2 separate regions of the Homo sapiens genome follow, and region 2 is linked to region 1. Evidence: fine-mapped expression QTL. Tissue or cell type: whole blood. Region 1 holds a variant in brackets; the other region holds the start of a gene. All regions are shown on one strand. Distances are from middle to middle.

Region 1 (2,500 bases):
TGCTTGAACCCAGGAGATGGAGGTTGCAGTGAGCTGACATGATGCCACTGCACTCCTACCTGGGCGACAGAGTGAAGCTCAGTCTCAAAAAAAAAAAAAAAAAGGATGGATAAATTATAAAAGAAATAGTCATGAAAATAAACTGGCTGCATACAGTAACATGGATAACTCTTAAAATGTAAGGTTGAGTGAAAGAAGCATGACAAAATATTTTGTCCAGTATGATTTCATTTCCATAAAGATAGACAAAATTTTATATACCTATGTAACAAACCTGCATGTTCTTGCACATGTATCCCAGAACTTAAAGTAAAATTAAAGTAATTAGGGAGCAAGGACAAGAGTGAACCTTTCATTTCTAATAAAGTTAGCTTCCATCACTTAAAAAAAATTAATATTTAGGAATTTGCATATGGATAGTAAACCTATAAAGAAAATTGAAGACCTATTTCTTAAAATGTTAGGATAAGTTATCTCCAAAGCATAGGAAGGGTTGCTGTTATAACCAGGAAGGGGTAGGTACATGGGGCACTACAGGAATGCTAGCAGTATTCTGTTTTTTAAACTTACCTGGATGGTGGCTGTATGGGTGTTGCTCACCTGTTTATTAAACCTATTTACTAATTGTTTTTATATATTTCTGTCTATATGTGTATTCTGCATACTGTATGTTGTATTCCATCAAGAAGTATTTAAAATGCTACTTAGACCCCTTAGTGCCACAAATATTCAAGTATTAAAAAATAGTATCTTGCAATGATTAGGTACTTAATACATTTTCAAGTACTATAGAATTGTGCATATATATGCACTATATATAGTAAATATATACTATCTATAAATTACAGATAAATATATAATGTATAAATATATATTTAATATATATAAATTTTCAGTTTATCAATAATTTAAAAATACACCCTAATCATTCTTACATTTATGTTTACTTTTAGTTACTTACCTCATATTCTTGGATGATGTTGACCCATACATAAAATCTAAGACTTTTAATAAATGTAATTTAATTGAAAGGAAGGGAGACAAACTCAGTCTTCCCACCTCTGTCTCCCAGGTACCCTAAAAGTTATTGCACAATTGATTGCTATGCTTGAGCACCCAAAATTAGGGAAGCTGTATTATCACCACTGGAATTGGCATGCATTTATGTGTATGTGTGTTACAGTATAACCGCTGAGGAATGTTCAAGGGTTATTCATCTTTATTTTGTTTGCAAAACTTAATTTATACTGCAGTTTCTGC[A/G]TTTTTACGGTTTATTTTTCTTTAGTTAGAACGTGATTTTCTTTATATCCTGGAAATGCCTTACACAATATCTATTCAATAAATGTTATTGAATGAATGTAAATAACATAATTTAGAGTTTTTAAACAGTCATAACATGCCTAATTTTAAAAAGAAAATACCTCTTTTTTTTTGTTTGTTTTTAAGAGAGTATTTTGCTCTGTCACCCAGGCTGGAGTGCTGTGGCATGATCTTAGCTCATTGCAACCTCCGCCTCCCAAGTTCAAGTGATTCTCCTGCCTCAGCCATCAGAGTAGCTGGGATTACAGATGTGCATCACCACACCTGGCTAATTTTTATTTTATTTTATTTATTTATTTATTTTTGAGACAGAGTCTTGCTCTGTCGCCCAGGCTAGAGTACAGTGGCACGATCTTGGCTCACTGTAACCTCCGCCTCCCGCGCTGAAGTGATTCTCCTGCCACAGCCTCCTGAGTAGCTGTGATTTTAGGCACCTGCCATCATGCCCGGCTAATTTTTGTATTTTTAGTAGAGACTGGGTTTCACCGTGTTGGCCAGGCTGGTCTTGAACTCCTGACCTTAGGTGATCCACCCACCTTGGCCTCCCAAAGTGCTGGGATTACAGGCGTGAGCCACCGTGCCTGGCCTAATTTTTGTATTTTTAGTAGAAATGGGGTTTTACCATGTTTGCCAGGCTGGTCCCGAACTCCTGGCCTCAGGTGATCTGTCCGCCTTGGCCTCTCAAGTGCTGGGATTACAGGTGTGAGCCACTGTGTCTGGCTGAAAATATCTCATTTTTTAGCCCTGTGAATATTTTCGTCTCAAAAATCTGTCAAAAGCAGTATTCTGGCTGTTACAGTTGAGGGGGAAAGTAGAATTTTAAAGCCCTTGAACTCATCTAATACCGTAGAATTTGGGACACAGGAAGGCTTACATTTAGGATATGCAAGGAAAAGATATCTTTAATGAAATTGTCTTTCTTGGATTAAGACAACTTTAAATTGGTTTTTCTGTTCATGTATTTACTCAAAAACTTAAGTGGTATTGGAAATGAAAAAGAATGAGCCTTAAATGTACATTTTAGAAAGAAAAATGGGTTTGAGTTTCTACAACCTCTCTCAGGCAGCACTTTATTTTTTCTCATTTATTCTTGTTCTTTACCAGAATGTGAATTTTTGGGTACAATATGAAATAAAAATGTTCAGTGCCTTGCCTGAAATTATATTAAGGGATAAATAGC
Region 2 (2,744 bases), 380 kb before region 1:
TCACTTTGGGCCAAGGCCCACTGTCCCCATTGTTACTTTCATTGTGACAATAGTGTGGTGGGCAAGGAGGGAGGCCAGAGTCCGGTGGGAACTGGGTTTTAGGAGGAGGTATCTGAAGAATGTGTAGTGGGTCGGGGGCTGGTGCGGTCAGAAGGGCCACCTCTAATTTCTGCCTTGCATTGGTGACTAGATCTGCACTTTCTGGAACTCCCAGAGAAGTTTGCTGGTGCCTTTGAGGGCAGGTACAGGGCCTGCCTTATCCAGGTAGCCCTGGGGTGGGTGCGGGTGTCTCGGGCAGTAGGCAGGGGCTGAGGGGAGGCTTACCTCTGACACAAGACCTGGGTACAGCAAGGGCATGCAGTAGCATGATCAAAGTCCCCCCAGAGTGGTCCGGGCAGCGTCTCTAGTTGGGCCAGAGCTGGGCAGGTGGGGACCTGTGTTTCCCTCGAGGGGAGGCAGCCTCCCCTTCCCCTTCTGTGAGGCCCTGTAACAAGACCTACCTCGGATTTTCAGGAGGGCCAAATGCGAGGACATGTACAATACCAGCTCCGCAACTGACACCTAGTAAACAGTGAACGTAGCTGTTGCTATTATAACAAATACCTGTTCCCTGTGGAAAATGGTTAAATGTCAACTTATGCTTTTAAATGTCTATAGGGAAACTAGTTTTATGGACATTATTTATTCTTCTCATCTGCATTTGCAGTGTATCTCGGCCCAGCTGCTTCTAATTTTTTGCCATTATAAAACAGGGAACATGAGCATCTTGTGCAGGGTGGGTTTTTTGTTTTTTGTCTCACTGTGGCCTCGACCTCCCGGGCTCAGGTGATCCTCCTACCTCAGCCTCCTGAGTAGCTGGGACCACAGGTGCGCGCCACCACAGCCGGCTAATTAATTTTACTTGTGGAGACGGAGGTCTCCTACGTTGCCCAAGTTGGTCTCTAACTCCTCGGCTCAAGCGATCTTCGCGCCTTGGACTCCCACAGTGTTGGGATTACAACCGCGAGCCACCGTGCCCGGCTTTCTGCAAGTTCTTGATGACCGATGAGAGCCGGTGGGCCCAAACCCGGCGGGCCCTAACCCGGCTTCACGCTCCGCCCGGCCCGGCCCGGCCCGGCCGTCCATACTTCCCTCCGGTGTCCACCAGAGGGCGAACGGGAGACGCGAATGTGGTTCGACTACGCATGCGCACGCCGCTGGGCGCACGTGCGGAGGGCGGCGGGGCGGGAGGGTAAAGGTAGGAGGTGAGAGGTGAAGGGGCGGGCACCCGGCGGCCAGGAGAGAGAGGGAGGGCGCCACGCACCGGACTGCGGGCCGAGAGCGCGCACGCCGCGCTCCGCCCCTGCTGCCGCCCCCGTCGCCGCCGCCGCCGCCGCCGCAGCTTGGGAGGTGCTGCCACCACAGGTACCGTCACGCGGGTGCTCAGGGCGCCTGCCCGCGGGCCCCAGCTCGACCCCAGCCGCGTGGAGCTGGGAGTTCCGGAATGGGGGCCGCTAGGTTCGGGGGTGCGTGGGCATGGCGCTGTCCAGCAGCCGTGCGGGCCGGCCCTGGAGACCGCAGGCCGGCAAGGAGGCAGGGCCGCGCGTCCCCACCCCCAACCCGGCCGTGTCCCTGCACCGGCCGGCCCCTGGAGCTCCGCGTCCCCACCAGACCTCCGCGGGCCCCTGGTGTGACGGGGGGAGATGCGCGGCGTCGCATCCCCTGGCCTAGTTGCTCCGGGAAGCTGTTGTAGAACCTGCTTTGGTGCTGTTTGGGTTTTCCGGAGTGCGGGGGAGAGCAGGTTCTCCACTTTGCCTCTTTTGGAAGATCTTATTGAGAGACAACGCTAGTTGCTTTGCTGGTTTTGCTTGGTTTCTAGTTTTCCGTATTGCTTAAACCTCAACTTTGCTCACTAATGTTGCTTCTGTTTACTTCTGAGTGGGTTTATGACCTCAGTATTTAACCGGCTTATAATGTCACGATAGCGTTAGTTGCAGGGAGCCCTGGCTCCGGACTGTTTGAATCACAGAAAGTTGTGCAGATGGGAATGCGGAGGGGGGGGCAGTGAGTCGCTGTGGGGGCTCTGGCAGGGGTCAGCCCCTGGTTCGGGTCACTCACTGCTCCACCTTGTATGGCGACAGTCGGAGCTAGGTGAATAAACTCTTTCTGGGGATTTTGTAATACTTATCGTGAAGCGGCCATAGAAAAGGTTTAATGTTAGCGTTGCGTGTGTTTCTTTTATTTGGCCAAAAATTTGTGGAGTTTGGTTATGCCGTGTCTTTATTGGTTTGCTGTCAGGTCAGGATATTGAGCAAAAGACTGACGCTTTTATTAGGGAGTCAGGGTCGAGGGTGTCTAGTTAGTGCTGTATCCATTTTAGGTGTTCCTCAGTGATGCCTAAAGACTTGTTTTTTGTTTGTTTGTTTGGAGACAGGGTCTCACTCTGTCTCCCAGGCTGGAGTGCAGTGGCGCGATCTCGGCTCACTGCAGCCTTGATTTCCTGGGCTCAGGTGATCCTCCCACCTCAGCCTCCCCAGTAGCTGGGACAGCAGGTGTGTGCCACCACGCCCGGCTAATTTTTGTATTTTTTTGTAGAGATGGGGGTCTTGCTGTGTTGCCCAGGCTGGTCTTTAACTCCTGGGCTCAAGCATTATACAAGCCTTGGCCTCCCAAAGTGTTGGTATTACAGGCGTGAACCACCGTGCCCGGCCAAGACCTGTATCTTTTAAAATGTGTGTTAATATAGTTTACATTTTAGGTGTTTT

What was found. PIP is the estimated chance that this variant, and not a neighbour inherited with it, causes the effect.
Region 2: SCAP starts here. The variant in region 1 is fine-mapped to the expression of SCAP in whole blood (TOPMed, PIP above 0.99).

Annotation. Positions count from the first base shown.
Region 1 is chr3:47,090,888-47,093,387 of GRCh38, reverse strand. The region is part of intron 9 of SETD2 (SET domain containing 2, histone lysine methyltransferase); the gene reads left to right. Among named protein-coding and RNA genes, the nearest start is that of SETD2, 72 kb to the left of the region's middle. The variant A/G (reference allele first, on the strand shown) is at 1,261.
Region 2 is chr3:47,474,459-47,477,202 of GRCh38, reverse strand. It overlaps SCAP (SREBF chaperone), which reads left to right and starts at 1,262. Exons shown (of 23, transcript NM_012235.4): 1 at 1,262-1,404. It overlaps LOC105377073 (a long non-coding RNA gene), which reads right to left and starts at 1,258. Exons shown (of 3, transcript XR_940821.3): 1 at 839-1,258; 2 at 501-561. RefSeq lists a silencer at 1,175-1,714.